2 separate regions of the Homo sapiens genome follow, and region 2 is linked to region 1. The links come from fine-mapping of genetic effects on gene expression. A gene starts in region 1. The other region holds a variant in brackets. All regions are shown on one strand. Distances are between the middles of the regions.

Evidence for each region. PIP is the estimated chance that this variant, and not a neighbour inherited with it, causes the effect.
Region 2: its variant is fine-mapped to the expression of ADAMTS2 in nucleus accumbens (GTEx, PIP above 0.99). The same link has a PIP of 0.9 or more in anterior cingulate cortex, hippocampus and putamen.

The regions. Positions count from the first base shown.
Region 1 is chr5:179,341,844-179,350,331 of GRCh38, reverse strand. It overlaps ADAMTS2 (ADAM metallopeptidase with thrombospondin type 1 motif 2), which reads left to right and starts at 4,871. Exons shown (of 22, transcript NM_014244.5): 1 at 4,871-5,142; 2 at 6,171-6,565. The coding sequence starts at 5,004. It overlaps LOC105377759 (a long non-coding RNA gene), which reads left to right and starts at 1,077. Exons shown (of 3, transcript XR_941311.3): 1 at 1,077-1,398; 2 at 3,234-3,386; 3 at 3,553-3,971.
Region 2 is chr5:179,162,375-179,170,862 of GRCh38, reverse strand. All of the region lies in intron 5 of ADAMTS2 (ADAM metallopeptidase with thrombospondin type 1 motif 2), which reads left to right. Among named protein-coding and RNA genes, the nearest start is that of ZNF354C, 110 kb to the right of the region's middle. RefSeq lists a silencer at 3,451-3,660 and an enhancer at 3,274-3,775. The variant C/G (reference allele first, on the strand shown) is at 3,965.

The sequences.
Region 1 (8,488 bases):
AGGCTGGACTGGATGGAAGGACATTGCCACAGAGGGTGACCTAAAGGTAATGAAGCCCCAGAGGCCAGGGATCCTGGGGATCTAGCAAGGCCTGGGCTGGGGTCACCGATGGCTTTCCTCAAAATCTAGGAAGTAAGGAAGCGTCCAGACAGGCTTAGAAAAGGCTTTGAACACAGATCTCCATAATGTAATAGAACTGGGCCCTTCACTAGTTACCTACAGGATTTACATAAAAAGAAAGGAATTCTGCATGCTGTACAGATGGTGTAGTATAGGAGTGGGACACAAATATAGCGTCACATGGGAAAAACTTCTTTTGCCAGGCAGGAGGATGCCTGGGACTATGCAATACTCTGATTTGGAAATAAAGACAGAAGGCAATGCTGGGGGCACTGGGGTAGACGCGATGGTTAATCCAGGTTTGTCCCAGTCATCCCTTCACCCACCGCCTGTCAGCAACTGGTTCAGCAAATGACCCAGCCTTGGCCCACAGACCACAGGGGAGACAGCGGTCCTTCTGGGAGAGGGCAGTGCACCTGTGCTTTGGCCATCCTTCTACCTGGTTGGGGCAAAGATGCTAGGCAGGCAGCAGGGCCCTTGGTGCTGCGGTTAAGCTCCGTGGCCACCACACCTGTAGACTTCCGGGTGCGTGAGCTGATGCATTTCCTCATGGTTTAAGCTGGCTGTCTTACTTGCAGCCAGGAGCATCCTGAGGGACCCAAAGGCCTTTCCCAGATGAGGGGGCTGGACAAAATGGCCCCCGACCCCAGACAGGGGCCAGACACAGGTGAACCCAGAGATTTAGACCCCAGCTCAAGTGGCGTCACTGCCTGACACACCCAGATAGCCCCTTTAAAATTTTTCTCTGTTCTCTCTGCTAGGCTGAGCATATGTGTAAGTGGACAATCACAGATAGGCATTAAGCTACATCCTTCCCTGGGCCATTAATGCTTAGACTGAGTCTGAGTCTCCATCTTGCATCTCCATGTAGAAATGTTAACTGAGCCCTGATCCCCAAGCCTCCAAACCTCAAGCACTTTGTCTTCCACTTCCAGGCAGAATCGATCTCAGTGGCGAGGGGATGCCTCCGTGCTGCAATGGCAGTAAAAACAATTGCTACTGAAACACCACCCACGTTTCCTCTTTTGCTGGACACGGCTCCCTATTAAAGTGTGTACATGGCGTCGGGGAGGGGCACGCTCAAGAAACAGCAAGAACCACACTTCCTAGAGGCCACCCAGCCTCCACATTCTGTTCAATCAGCATTCCCTTGACATATGGCTCACCAGGGCCACTCCCGGCCAGAACTCCGCCAGAGCATCTGATGGGACCACTGCACCCGCTGTTTGCCAACAGCAAAGTTGGACAGAGCTGCTGTCCTCAAGGCCCCTCGACAAGGTAACTAGCCCCTCATGCTTGGCCCGCTCTGCACACAGGCACCAGTGAGACTAAAAGAGTCCAGCTCCTTTCCCACAGCCCCTAAGAGCTTGTTTGTCATTAGGGAGGGCACTGAAACCTCACTGCCTCCATCTGCTTGGCAGGTTGTGCCAAGAAAGGTGACTTTGTCAAAGGGCAGGAGACCTTCTCAGGGGCTGGTTTCTGTGCAGACATTAGGAGACAGCAGTGGCTCTCAAATGGGCTCCTGTCTTTAATGAAGTCTGTGCTGACAAATGTGACCTGGAAGCCTGAGCCAGACCAGGGAGCCCGACCCTCCTCTCAGGGCAAGGCAGGGCACCCACCCACTGAGAGCTGTGGTGGGCAACAAACATTCCTCCTCCTTAGTGTTTCTTCTGCCAGGGATGTGGGGTGACTCGTGGCACCCAAGATGACCCGGAAAGGTCCTCACCTCTTTCTGCACCACACAACTTTGGGAAGATTTTAAGGGGGTTGGGTGTGTAAGGCCCGAGCTGACGCTGACTTGTCCTCACTCCTCCCTACAAACACTGGGCTTCTCGGTGAGGGTGACAACTCCAGGTTTTCAGGGATCATGGTGCTGACAATCACGAGCAATAGGCAGGTGTAGGGCAACAGGGGGTGGTGAGGACTGCGGTAAGCTGGAGAGCACAGCCAGACCTGAAGACATTCAGGCTCCAGTAGAAACGAACGCACGTGGCATGTGCTCAACAACACATCCGGCGGCGTTGGCCCAGTGGCCCTTAGTTTTTGTCGTTGGGACCTAGACTGAACATGCAGAGGAGCAGAGAGCCACTGGGGACTTCTATGTCCCGTATTTTACCTGGAAGAGGAAAAGGGGGACCAGAGAAAGAGGCAAACACCAGTAAGGGGGGAGAGGCAAGATTTGAATCATGGAGGTTTGAAGAAGTAGCAAGATTTTTGTTGTTGTTCTTTGGTTGTTTTTTGTTTTTCTGTTTGTTTCTGAGTGGAGGACAAATGATCACGGGCTGGGATGTGTCTGCAAGTCTCCTCCACCTCCCTGAGGGTTTAACTGTGAAGTTAGGTGCATGTGAGCCTTGTTCATCCACCACCCTGGTGGGTGACAGTGGGGGCACTAAAGGAAGGGCCAGGCAAGGGTGCTGCTCCATCCCCAACTCATCCCTGGTGGCAGGGGCACGGGTGATGTGGGAAGAATCAGCTGCCTGGGGTTATTCAGTGTCCAGGAGACAAATTCTTTCCCCCAAAAATATCCCAAAGCAAGTATCCCAAAGTATACAAAATAATTTAGCTCTGTGAACCTGTTAGAAGATGCCATCAACTCATAAAGTCAGAGTTACTCCTTTTCAGGCCTCCTTTCATCCTTCCAATCACATCAGAACAACGACCTCTGTGCTAGTCCATCTTAAGGCTTTTGTAACACTTACTAATCAGCTTCAGCCTTCGGTATCTTTAGCAGGTCAAAGTATCTGGAATTTGATAACATTTCTCTTCTTGTTGTATTTATTTTTAGCAATTATCTTTGATTTATGGAAACATGGTGAGATGCTGGCTTTTCCATTTATAGTAGTGATTTAAAGTATCCTTTAAAAAATTGAAAAAAGTTTTAGGCGCTGTGTAAAGAAATACCCAACCATAGACACGGCAGGAAGGTGCAGAACATGCCCCTTGAAGTAGGGGCGGCTGCTGGTTGGGTTTCACTCGTGTTTCGAAGAGGATGGAAGCGCTGACAACCACAGGAGGAATGCGTCATGGGTTCCAGGACAGCAACTGGCTGGACCCAACTCTGGGCTGCCTAGCTCCCCCAGCCTTCACAATTCAACTCATGCCACCTCTTACAGGAAGTCCTCCTGGATGCCCAGCTCTGGAGTCATCTCTGTGGTATACTAGGATTCCAGTTCCAACTTTCTCTGGAACCAGTTGGGTCATCACAGGTCACGAGAGCAGATGCCTACAGAGAGTGAGGAGAGGCGGGACCTGCCACAAACTGCAAGGTAAGTGCCCATTTAATGGTTGCTAAGCAGGACTGTGGGGCTAGCGTGGCCACATCTTCCAATATCTCAAGAAAAGTTACCAATCTAAATTTCCATGTGACATCTCACCATGCCTGGGAGCTGGATCCAGCCTCGGGCACCCTTAGGTGACACAGAAAGAGTACAGCTTGCAGGTGAAGATGGCTGTCCAGCTGCGATGCTCTCACACCCAGGACCCACAATCGAAAGAACCAAGGACGTGAGATCACAGTTAGAGCCTGCTGTGTAAGTCGTGTTTCCCCCAACGACTGGGACCTCCTGGCCAGCAGGGAGAGGCCTGAGTCATCTCCGGGTCCTCTGCCCCTGGCCAAAGCAAAGACCAAAGCCCTGGCCACACAGACCTGGGGCAGGGCAAATGAGAAAATCAAAGGGGTGGGTGTTCACCCTCTGGGGAAGTGAGGCAGAAATTGGGGGTCCCAGGGCAGAGATGATCAACAGCCTGAGAGGGGGCTCTCAGGCAGGCCCTGGAGAGAGGCCGCTGAGCTCAGACAGCATGGGAGGATCAGGGCCTTGCTGGAGAGGAGGGACTGGGGAGGGGTTCCGGTTGGCAACGGGCTCTAACAGCAAACTGGCCCCAGAATGGGCCCAGGTGTCCTTGGATGCTTGGGTGGAAAAGGTAGGCAGAGCTTGGAGAGGCCATTTCAGGTTGGGGGCCGGGAGTGCAATGGCGGGAGGACAGAATGCATACGTGGGGTTGAGGACAGGTGAGGGCAGGAGCCTGACTGTGCTCATGGGCAGAGAGCCCAGGTCTGGCAGGAAGAGGCTGTGCTGAGGCTGCAGCGGAGGGATGGGAAGGCAGATGGGGGACAGGGGACAGGGACTTCAGAGGAAGAGGAACTGGGGACTGAAGGAGCCTTGCCTCTCTCAGTAAGGGCAAAAGTTGATCTTTGGGGTCGCGCCCTGGGTGTACCCTCCTAACAGCATCTTCTGGCCTTTGCGGCCTCTATTTGGGCATTCGGCCTGGCTCAGACCTTGGACCCAGTAGTCAGTCCCCCCTCCCCTTTCATTCCCTCACCCTGTCCTGCCCCAGAGCACAGAGACAGGGGGATGCACCCCTTGAATTCCAGGGCTGATGGGTGGGACCCGGCACCCCAAGGGCTCTCTAGGTGGGGACGTTCGGCCGGCGCCGCTCCTCGGAGGTTGTGCCCCTGGGGTGGCTGGCGGCGGGGCTCCCCCGGCCCGGCCCGCGGCGCTTCTCTGCCGCCGCCTCGGGGTGTCTCTGCTTCGCTGCGAGCCCGGCACCGCGGCGACGGCGGCGCGAAGAGGGAAGCGGGCGGCGGCGGCGGCCGCGCCAAGATGCGCCGGGTCACCGCAGGCTGAGGCGCCCGCCGTCCCCGCCCTCCCCCTCGCTCGCCTCCCTCCCTCCCGCCTGCCTCCCTCGCTCGCTCGCTCCTTCCCTCTCCCCGCCTTCCCTCCGCGCTCCCCCGCCCGCCCCTCCGCGCCTCGCCTCCTCCGCCCCGCGCCCTGCGGTGCTGCAGCTGCGGGCGGCTCCAGCTGCCCCCAGATGTGGGCTGGGCGGCTCGCGGGGAACTTTCGCGCCGGCTGCGAGTGCGGGGCCCCGGCTGCAGTCCGGCTGCCATGGATCCGCCGGCGGGAGCCGCTCGCCGCCTGCTCTGCCCCGCGCTGCTGCTGCTGCTGCTGCTGCTGCCGCCGCCGCTCCTGCCGCCGCCGCCGCCGCCCGCGAACGCCAGGCTCGCCGCCGCCGCCGACCCCCCAGGTAGGTGCGGCCCGGCCCCTACTCCCCGGGACCCCCGCCGGCCTGGCCCTGTCCCGCGTGCCCCGCCGCCCCCTCCCCAGGCGTCGTCCAGCCTGACTTGGGCAAACTCCGCGCGCCCCGCCCGGGGCCAAGTTGGCCAACTTCGGGGCCGGGTTGGTCGCGCAGGGGGCGCCCCGCACCGCCCCCGAGCGCCTTGGGCCGGGGGAGCCTCGGAGCACTGGCGGCTCCTGAGTCGCGGAGGGTGGGGACGGAGGGCCGGGAAAAGCCCCGCGGCCAAGAGCGCAGAGTCAGCCCCAGCGGGTCCGAGGGGGGAGCCAGGGCGAGGCGGCGCCGGGGCTCGCGTCCGGGGACGCTCCGGAGGAGCCGGCTGCCGAGCGCGTAGCCTTGGGCCCTAAGGATTGGTTGGGGCGCCCCGCAGGGAATCCCCGGAGATCGGAGGGACCCTGTTCCACCCCTCCCAGTCCTCGGGCGCTCGGGGAGACGGGGCCGGCAGCGGGCTGAGCGGGAGCTGGACAGGCAGGACAGGCCGCTCGTGCTCGGGGAAGCCGAGACTCCGCCGCTCCGGAGGCTGGCGGTGAGGGCACTCGGGCGGCAGGGGCCCGCCGAGGGGTCGTGGCACACGGGTAAGGGGGCCAACCCGGAATGGCTTCCGAGCAGCTCCACGTCCTGCCAAGGACGGTAGGTGCAAGGGTCGGGGGACTCTCTGACGGGGTCGTCCCTTCGGGCACGGGGAGGTTCCCACCGAGCCCCAACCCTGAACGGGGCAGGGGGCAGAGCTCTTGGCAGGCAAGGTCTCCGGAGGAGGGAACGGCTGGGGAGTGGCGGAGCCCCGGAGTGGTGGCCCTGTTAACGCCCCTTCCCGGTTGCAGGAAAGCCGGGGAGGTGCAGGCTGGCTTCTGGGGTCGCCTGGCGGAATGCCCCTTCCCTTCGCAGTGGGGCGGGGTCTGGGGGGGCGTGGCTTGCCGGCGGGTCTCTGAGGCACTGGGGCTCCGTGGTCTCCGCCGATCTAACGCCCCTTCCCGTTGCAGGCGGGCCCCTGGGGCACGGAGCGGAGCGCATCCTGGCGGTGCCCGTGCGCACTGACGCCCAGGGCCGCTTGGTGTCCCACGTGGTGTCGGCAGCTACGTCCAGAGCAGGGGTACGAGCCCGCAGGGCCGCCCCGGTCCGGACCCCGAGCTTCCCCGGAGGCAACGAGGAGGAGCCTGGCAGTCACCTCTTCTACAATGTCACGGTCTTTGGCCGAGACCTGCACCTGCGGCTGCGGCCCAACGCCCGCCTCGTGGCGCCCGGGGCCACTATGGAGTGGCAGGGCGAGAAGGGCACCACCCGCGTGGAGCCCCTGCTCGGGAGCTGTCTCTACGTCGGAGACGTGGCCGGCCTAGCCGAAGCCTCCTCTGTGGCGCTCAGCAACTGCGATGGGCTGGTGAGTACGCACTTCTCTAGCTCCTTTCTCTCCGCTGCTCTCGCCTGGGTTTTGGAAAAGGGTTACCTGGGAGTCCCTTGGGAGGGCAAGGCCTGCGCTGAGGACTTTCCGCGCCCTTCCCGTGCTTTAGTGAGCCTCGTGCTCCAACTGAAGGGCTTGGCTGGAAAGCAGGTTGTTTTGACTGGTCTGAGCAGGGGGCCATTTATGCATGGGGAGCGCCCGGGTCTCCAAAAGGCTCAGCAGGCAGGAGCGTGCGCCTCTCTCTTTTGCCTGCCTGAACAGGTCTCTGGCTTGCATCCGGGGGTGGGTCCGTGTATGTGTGTGTACCTTTGTGAGTGTGTGCACATGTGTTGTGGAACGTTGGTGTGTACCTGCATCTGGGTGCCCGTGCACCTGTGTGAACATGTGCGTGTGCCAGTGTCTCTTGTGCACGTATGTGTCTGGGTTTCTGCACATCAGTGTGTTGAGCATCTGTTGAGTTTGTGTCCGTCCTTGTGCATACTGGCGTGATATGTGTGTGGTGGACTTATGGGCTGGCAGTCAGTCTTCCTGTTTCCTTGCGTGCGGGTAATACCAGCCCAGGGAGCTGGCAGTGATGCTGAAATGCCCAGTTAGCCCTCTGCCCCTTGGCTGACCGGGAATCATTGGTTTTTCTGCTGTGGTTTCCTGTTGAACTCCAGCTGGTTCTTTGAAAAGTTGGTTTTCTCTATTTTGAGCTGAGGGGTGCATTTGGAAATGAAGGCTCTAGTGCCCATGAGCTGCTCGATCTTTTGGGGGCAGCGCCTGAAGGACAAGAGAGAGGCTAGGGGATCCCTTTTGAGACTGCCTGCGCCTCTCTAGTCCTGTGACTGGAGCTCTGGGAAGCTCTGCTTCCTGGAGAGGGCAGGAGGGACCGTGGCTCAGCACAAGGGGGCCTCAGAGGAAGCCTGGATCGATGCTGAGGGAGGAGGCTGACATTGGCGGTGCTCTGTCCGGCTGCCCGGGGCCTGGCACACAGCAGAGGCCACTGCAGTTTTCTATTTTGGATTGGGTGTGTGGTGGTCAGGCTGGCTGTGCTGGCCAGACATCTGAAGCCGCCCACCATGGGTTCCGCTCTAATTGCTACTCAGGGAACTCCTGCCCCGAGTGAGTGGCCACTCTCCCAGCCCCCGTGGCCCCTGAGCACGCCCGTACTCGGGCAGCTGAGGCTCATCCTACAGTCTGCAGAGCCGGCAATTACACCAGGGCTCTGCAACCACTGTCATTCTTTTTATGGAGACACAGAAAATATCACTTGTTGCTTTGGAAAATCACTGCCTTTGGCTGGATTTAGTTAGAACTTGGCCATATTGCAAACAACTGTAAATATCCCTGGAGGAGCTGGGTTAAAATGGTGAGCCCTTGACATCGCCCACTGTCTCTGAGGACATCCTGGGCCTCAGAGGTGTGTCCCATTTTACGCTGGAGGTTAATTTCCTAAATGAAAGGAGATGTTTGCTGCGGACTTAGGGTGAGGTAAGGTGGTGGGAGTTGACATGGGGTTGCAGTCTGTTGGTGGGCCAACACCTGTGTACTATGCATTCCTGATGGAGAGCATTTTGGGGAGGACTTGTCACTGTTTCATTCATTCAGCAGTTCATTTGGTGATTCATTTTTCAGCCAGCACCTTCTCATATGTTTATCCCCTGTACTGGTCAGCAATGAGGCAGGTCTGGTACCCACCCAGGGCTCCTGTCGTCAGGGTGGCTGACGGACACTCTGGCCAGGACTTGGAGAGTGTGCTCCTGGGGGGCTGTTTGAATGGGGGCTGGAAGAATGAGTGGCCAGCTGGAAAAGACGCAGGTTGGCAACCCGGGCAGAGGGAGGAGCGTGTGCAGAGGTACCAGGTGTGGATTGGCCTGGGCAGGACAGGCCTGCTGAAGTGTCCCATGTACCAGACAGAGC
Region 2 (8,488 bases), 180 kb after region 1:
ATCCGGCCAGCCCAGAGCCTCTGGCTTCCCGAGCAGCTGCTGTTTAATCCCAGGGAGGTGCATGAACGAGGAGGGGAGAGGAGCCCTGTGTCCAGGCAGTAGCAGCAGACAAGACAGCGACAGAGTGGTGAGCACCGGCAAGGAATACAGCAGGGTGGCAGGCAATAGGGGACCATGGATGGAGCAGCCAGGATGGGGACTTCCCAGCCAAGATCTGGGGGCAAAAGGCCTAGCTCCTGTGTCCAAGGGAACAGACCCCTTTTGCTCACAGAGAAGCACAGCCAGGGATTCTCGATGGGGCTCTGGGGACAAAGTTTGGCACATGGTGGGGATGAATTCTGATGAGCTGCTCTTCAAGGAACCACAGGCTTCCCGTCAAGGAATGAGGCCCCCGTCTCTAGAAGAATTTTAGCATGGCAAAACCAAGGCGATGGCAGTCAGGAGGGGGCTGAGCTGTCCCCCCCACGGTGGGGACAGACTCTGGGGGATGTGAGACCATGACCCAGACTTGGGCAGAAAGTGGCCCAGATACTCGGTTCCTGTTATTCATCCCAAATTGTGACAGAAATAGACCAGCTCCCCACCTGCCGCTCCCCCATTGCCTGTCCCCCAGGCCTCACCAGGCTCCAGTGGGGATAAAATTGGTAGCACTTGTTTGAGTGACATGTTTGTCTTCTAGCTTATGAGAAGCCTCTGAGTTATCTCAAGTTTTTCCTAAAACAACATTTTTCTCCATTTCTTAAAAAAAAGCAGAAGAAAAGAGATGATCTTATTTTATACAATATACCACCAGCCAGGGAGCAGAGCATCGGCAACACTTGAGGTTGCATAGCAACTGGCTTTTCAATTGATTTTTTGAGAAGGTACCAAAGCTACTCAACTGTTCTCATTTTAAATATTTCCTAGGATGATGAAAATCAAAGCAAATGGAAATCAGAGACTTGGGGAGCATCAGAGAAGGACATAAAGTGTCTTGTTATAAAAAACCAGGTCAAGACAAAGTGTGGAATGCTTGCTGGAATTTTTCAGCATTGGAGGTGAAAGGTCTGAGAAATTCTGCATGTGAGTCTCTTAGTGGAAAGCACGAGAAGAGAGGTGCTGGGGGTGGGGGCTTGGTGTGCCCACCCACCCACCTATAGGGTAGAGGATTTAGAGTGGCCCAGCCATGGTGCAGGAAGGCCAGGAAGTGAAGGTCTGGGGAGGATATATCAAGGGCCCTGGGGATCTGGGACAGGGGATGAGGTGGGAAACACACCCCATGCCTCACCCCAGGGACAGCCCCCTGTCCTCCTGAGCATCTGGGTCCCAACCCCCAACCTGATAGGGGTGCAAGGCATGATGGCCCACCCACATCATCCTCCATCCACCTCCTCACCCAGACCTACCTGGGTCCAGAGAACTAGGAGGCACTAAGGCTGGACACTGCCCTTGGGAGGTGCCTTAGTCTGTTTGGGCTGCAATAACAGAAATACCTTAGACTGAGTAATTTATAACCAATGGAATTGTGTTACTCACTGTTCTGGGGGCTGGGAAGTCCAAGAGCAGGACGCCAGCAGAACTGATGTGTCGTAAGGACCCATTCCTCCTAGAGGGCACCTTCTAGCTGTGCCCTCGCATGATGGAAGGGTGAACAGGCTCCCTCAGGCTTCTTTTGTAAGGGTGCTAATCTCATTTATGGAGACTCCACCCTCATGACCTAATGACCTCTCAAAGACCACACTTCCTAATACCATAACATTGGTTCTCAGCTTTCAACCTTTCAAATGTGGGGGACACAACATTCAGATTCTAGCAGGAGGCCCCTCTTCTGCCTCCCCACAGGCCTGCACTGGCTCATGCCTGGGAAGGCTCAAGTTGAGAATCCTGTTCTGGCAGCTTGGCTCTCTCTGGGAATAGCTTCCCAGGCTTTGGGGAAGATGGCTGGAAACAAAATGCTGGAACGATATGGGAGTTCTGGCAGAGAAATGAGGTGCACGCCTCCTGCCCCAGCTCTCGTGGTTCTCTGTCGTGATGAGATTTGATCTGTAAGCCCTGCCTGGAACAAGAGACCTCCAGCCTTGGGGGAGCCCACTTTGCACTCAGCTGGGGGGCACGGTAGAACATGTGCTCACAGAGCAGGGATGGTGGGACCTTGTCCCTGCCATTCATTCTGGCTTTGTCCATACTCGTGGGACCTTTGGTGAGCAATTTAACATCATGGGGCCTTAGTTTCCCCCATAAGAGGAGGTCTGTGAAACCCCAGCACACAACAGGAATGACGACAATCATAAAGGCGTTCGTGCAAGTGACTGTTTGTAGAGCTTCTTCTGGGACAGGCACCGTCTGAAGCCCTTTATGTGACTTTATGCCCTCACCCCCACAGCAACCCTGTGGAGTAGGCGCTGTGATCATCCCCATTTGACAGTGAGGACCCTGGCTCCAGGGGGCGAGCGGCCTGCCCGGGGCCACACGCTGGTGGAGCCACTCTGCTCTGGGAGGAGGGGCTGGACTCTGTGATCCCGGCTGGTCAGGAGCACCAGCTTCAGGCTCCTTGTCCTGGTCCCCTGAGGGTCAGTTGCTCCCAACCAAGAGTGACTTTGCCACCCCTCCCCCCACCCGGGGGACATTTGGCAGTGTCTGGAGAGACTTTTGGTTGTCACGACTAGGGGGAGGGTTCCACTGGGTTCTGGCAAGGAGTGCCCAGGGGTGTGCTCAACATCCTGCCATGAACAGGGTGCCCGCCTCACCCAACAGGAATTATCTGGCCCCAAATATCTGGAGTGCTGAGGTTGAGAAATGTGGTCTGCTCACCAGAACCCAACCTCCCTGCTGTCCTATCCTGCACCTGTTTAGGAGGCTGGTCTGAGGCAGGAGGGCCCCTCTGGGATGGGGACGGTTGAGAAGCTTTGCTGAAGCCGCATCCCCTTGGGGGCATGAGCCAGCCCCAGCGGGTAGGCCAGTCCCCAGGGACTGGTGTTATACTCCATCAGTATCAACAGCACGGCAGAGACAAGGACAAGGGACATTTGTGGGCGCTGACTGCACCCTGCCTGAACTGTCATGGGCGGAAGCCCCCCAGCTCCAAGCTCGGAGCTGCAGTTGTGCCCATTTTGCAGGTGGGGACAAGTAAGGTAACTTGCCCAAGAACAGAGCAGATGAGATATTTCGGCCGGGCCTAGAGCTGCCCAGGTGACCTCACCTGCCACCTGCAGTGGACTTGGTGAGCCTCGGTCGCGTGGCGGCCTGCGGGGCTGGCTGAGTGCGCCTTGCCCAGCAGGCAGAGCCTCCTGGCGGGGCGGGCGCGGTTCCAGCGGAGGCGGCCTCCAGGCTGCTGATCCCCATCCCGGTTTCCTCCCACGTCTCCTTGACTGAAGGAGGGAAGAGCATAGATAATTCAGCTCCTTCCAGAGCAAACAATGGAAATGTCGGAGAGCAACGATTGGAACAGAACTTTTTGCTCAGGTCATAATTGATGTATTTAGGGTGAGGCCCAGAGGCTGTCTTGGGGCCGCTGGGGCCCCGGGAGCCCGGGTGCGGCCGCGGAGTCTGGGCGCCGGGTGCGTCCCCGGCCCGGGCCGCTGTTCTCGCGGCAGCAGCGCCACCTGGTGGCCGCTCGGGCCCGGCCCTTCCTCTGCCCGCCCCGCGCGGGGGGCAGCACCCCGACCTCTTTCCGGCTGTGGGACTCAGGCGAGTCCTTTCAGTTGTCTGAGACGCAGTTCGTCATCCGGAAGGTAGGAAAATGAAGTGGAAGCGAGGTGTCGTGTGCCAAGCCTGAGCCTAGCGGGGCGCTCCTTGCGGACGGTGACTTCCTGCTGGGGTCAGCATCTGCCGGGGCGGCCCTTTGGGCTCACTTCCCCAGGCCTCCCGAGAACGTCCCCGCAGCCGGCGCCTCCCTCCCTGCCCAGCCTGGCTCCTGAGGGTGCTCGTGTTCATTCCTTCATCACTGAGCGCCCAGCAGCCGGGGTCCTCTGGCCGCGTTCGCTGC[C/G]TCATCCTGGCATGGAGAGCAGAAGCCGGGATTGCTCCGTGAAGGGAGGAGTGGGGCTACTGAGGGCAGGCGTGGGCCAGGGCTGGGGCACAGACTCGGGCCCAGCAACCACCCGGCCCTCAAGGAGCTTAGGCTTTAGTGACTCAGAGGCCAGCGACAGCAACAGGCACATCCCCAGTAGGTGCCCCATCTGGCAGGTGACCGATCGCACGCAGGAGGAGGGACCCGGCGGGCAGCTCAGAGCCAGGGTCCCGCGGCCAGGATGGGGCTGGGACTTGGAGCTGGACGCAGCCTACTCGTCCACCCAAGGCCCACGGGCCCCCTAAGCTCCTGGCTGTTCCCTGAGGCCCGTGGGGTTACCCAGACCCCTGCAGGCTGGGCCTGAGGTTCAGGGGCCCGCAGTGTTTCCTCACCCTTGCCCTGGCCAAGCCTCCTGACAGCCCTGGGGAGCATTCAGCAAAGTGACCTTCTGACCCAAGGTGAGGGCCATCAAGCTCTTGCCTCCCTAAGGCCCTCAGATCTGCCCTCTCCACCTCATGGTGGGATCCCTGGGTCTTTCAGGCATGTCCTCAGACCCTTTCCAGCCCGGGCCAGGGGAGCCAAACAGGCTGAACCCGGAGGAAACACCATCCTTCTTGGGACCAGGCTCCCGGTGCTGCTGTGGGAGGGCCCCAGGGGCCTGGACGAGTGTCTGCCTCCTGCATCTGGGCAGCTCTGTGAACCAGCATAGCAAGGAGGGTCTCCATGTGGACATAGGTGGGCACTCATGATGGCCAAGGAGGACCCTGCACTCTGGAAGAGCCAGCCTGGTCCAGGGCCCCAGAGCACTCGGGCAGTGGAGCCCAGTTGGGAGCCCATGTCTGCAGTGGTCGATGTCACCTCCAAACAGGGGTGGCAGAGCCCTCCATGAGGGGTGACGACTGTCCTGGGGCCCCTGTAGAGGATCCGATCAGCCTCTTGGAAGCTCATCTGTTCCCGTGCTCTGAGCTAGGGTCAGCCCACTCAGGACTCCTCCTGCATCCTGGGCTGGATGGGCCCCTGGACTTCATCCACAGCCCTACTGCAGGCTTCTCCCGCCTGGCTCTTCTGGGGCCCTAGGCTGGACCTGGGAGTTCTGGGAGCTGCTGCCGCTGTGAAGAGTCTGCCCTCAGAGGCCCTGCCTCACTCAGGAGGTGGACCCTGCAGCTACCATGCAGCCCCAGGGCCTCGAAATGTCCATCCCCGGTCATACAGCACCATCTACCGCCCCCTGCTCTGGAGGCTGGGTGCCCGCGGCTGCCCCTGGGAGGGACTGGCTGCCCTGTAAAGTCCCTGGCTGGTCCTGCAGCCACCCCCTTTGCAGAGCCCAGGGTGCTACGGCTCACTCCTGGTCCCCCCCTCAGCACAGCTAGGAACAGGTGGAGTCACACAGACAGACTTTCCTAGAGGAGCCGTGCAGAGCCGAGCAGGCAGCTGGAAGTCAGGTGCATTCAGGACTGGGAGGGACGTAGATGACCAGGGCGAGCTGGTGAAAGACTCCTCAGTGGAAACAAGCAGTGCAGCCTCCCTCACTTCTGGAGGAGATCCATATATGAGAAATGTGTCTTCTTCTCGCTCAGGGGAAGCACAGTTCCCAGGCTTGATACATAGCAAGGGCACAGGATGGTGGGGGCTGGGGTGCCCCAGGCAGCAGGGACCCATCTGGCCTCCTGCATGCAGGCCAGGTGGCAGAGGAGCAAAGGAGGTCGCATCCCAGCAGGTGGTCCCGCTGGAGCCCAAGTGACCCACAGGGGAGTTCACTGCATGTCAGGACAGTATCCTTGGCTGGAGGTCTCAGCGGAGAGACCTGAGCTTGGCTCTTCCCTTGGGTTCCGACTGCCTCCAGTAGCGAGGGCCTTGCCCTGTCCACGGCCAGCCCAGACTTCCCTCCTGGGCCGCAGACCTGTCCAGCTGCCCCGATGTCTCTGCCTGGACATCAGTTTCTTTCTGTGAGGAGTCCTTAGAGGCATGCAGAACCCAAGGCTGCCTGTAGCTCTCATGGAGTGGGAGGAGTGGGTGGAGGAAAGGGGGCTCTGGGGTGCATGAGCCTGAGTTTGCGGATGGTTGTTTTGGGTGCTGCCACCAGGCAAACCCACTTCAGCCAGTTTTCAGTCCTTTCGAACCTGTGCTCCATGGGCCTAACATGGGTCCCAGCTACGGCTTGGGACTGATCACCCACAAGGGCTGCACCCCCAGAAGTGGGAGAGCTCCCAAAGCAAAACAGCCCAGCTCTTCCCAACGAGCAAGCTGGCCAGGAAAGACATTGCCGTGACCATGTTTCCTGCACTGCGGACCCCACGCTCTTCCTCTGGCACTTGCCGTCCCCTTCCCGCGCCGCCTCTTCTGCCTTGCTACCAATCCCCAAAGCCAGACACTGGTGCCGTCTCTGCCTCATTGCTCCCGCCCTGCAGCCCTGATGCCTCTCAGCTCCTGCCACCAGGTCCTGACCCTCCTGACGTGGCACCAGCCACACCTGCATGCATCTCAGTGCCACACTGTCCCCTTCTATCCCCACTCCTTCCTCACTGACCCAAAGGGCTGTTTTAAGAATGCACACAGACCTTGCCCTGGCCTCTGGGCACAAGGTCAATGTCTGGGCCTCATGGGTACCCCATAGCCCTTGAATGCTCCAGACCCAGCAAGGACAAGATCTCTGCCCCTGGGCTCCTCTGTGCCCGTCAGAGATAGGCTGGGACCTTGGAGATGTTGGGACGTTGGCAGAGAGAGAGAGGAAGCACAAGCAGCTCTGTGGCTTGTCAGTTAAGCTCCCAGTGGCAGGTTGAGTCCTGGGGTGCCCGGACACTGAGGTAACCCTCTCCTCTACTTCTTGGGGTACCCCCTGCTGGGACCCAGGCTCCCAGGGTCTAGCACACTCTCATGTCTCCTGAAGTCCTGCCTCCCAGGGCTCCCCTGGCCCCAGTGCAGCTTCCCCTCCCTGTGCCCATGCACCCCAGCCCTCCCCTCTGCCCCCTCCTCAGGGAGTCTCCTCAGAACCCCAAAGCCAGAAGGGGGTCATAGACCCCTTTAGCTCTGGACCCTGCAGCACAACCTCCTTGGGGTTGGAGAACGAAAGTGGCAGGCTGCCTTCTTGGACTGGGCCGAGAACAAAGCGAGGCAAGAACAAAAACACAAATCAATATTTCAATAAATTGTCTTGCCGCAGCAGCAAGATCACTTTGGCTGCTAAGACGGGCTGGGAACCCAGGCTGAACCACAGAAGCCAGCATCTGGGAGGAGAGAGGTGATCGGCCAGAGTGGATCCAGTCTGCAGGACGTGGAGAAGGGGCTGCCCACTGCAGGGCTCTTATTCCAGGGTTCTGGAATAAAGTGGTGACGGGGAGGATGCGTTGTTTTGTCTGCATAACTGATTTCAATTTGAGCCAGTGTTTACTATTAGGTAGGTGTCTGTAGAATCCAGATTTCACGATTGACCTGAGAAATCTGATCCAGCAGCTCTGGGCCTCTGTTCCTGCCAGCACTGGGCGGATGTTGCTCCCTTCAGCTGTGCCTGGGCACCTGGGTTTGCCACAGTCCTCGCCACTCCTTATCACCGACCCCCACTCTATTCTAATAGGGAAATATTCCTCTGTACCCTTTCTCCTTCAAAACTGGGAAAACACAAGATGGACTTACTTTTCGTGCAACCAGCCTGCCTCATTGACTTGTCACCTGCCTTGCTCCTGTAGGCGCTTGGGTTTCTAGCATCCTCCCGGTACTCCCCACAAGCCCACACACTAGGATAGCGGACCTCCCTGCACACCCCCAGCCTGCCTCAGCCTGGCTCCTCCCGCAGCTCTGTCCTACACACTAGCCTCATTCCTGCCTCTGGTCCTGATATTGGGGCATGTCTTTCTGGCTGGACTCTTGACTCCTCCTCAAAGACTTGGCCAGGGCCCTTCTCCCACTGAGAAGCATATAAACTGCCCCCAGAACATATCAGCTGCCCCCAGATCAGACGCCATCTTTCATGGGCCAGCGAGTGTCCTGACTGGGGTCCCTGTGGTCCCCCAAAGGAGGAAGCACGTGGCTCAGATTCTCTTCGCTGCAAGTGACAAGAGCACAACTCAGAATTGGCTTTCACAAGGAGAGGAACTTCTTCAGGCATAAATGACACCCGTCAGTGGCAGGCAGCCTTCGTGATGGCCGCCAGTGACCCAGTCTCTTAATGTCCATGCCCTGCGGTAGGCGGGACTGAGATTCTATCAAAAGCAGACTGTGGCTTCTGTAGGGGAGGTGCCTTCTCTTGTTGTCTCTTGGGTCCCTCGAGCAGGGGCGACCGTGTGGGGTAAAGCTGACATGGGTGACGGCCCCAGGAGGGGCCCATACGGTATGGTGTGCAACAGCTCAGCTGGGGCCCGCCGTGACCACCTGAATGAGCCTGGGAGCTGACCCGCCTCCGGTACAGCCTTCAGATGAGACTGCAGCCCCAGTCTTAGCTCGACAGTGGTCTCATCCTCCTTTAATCCTTGGTGGGGGGTCTCCTGTAGTGCAGGGGGGCTCCAGCCG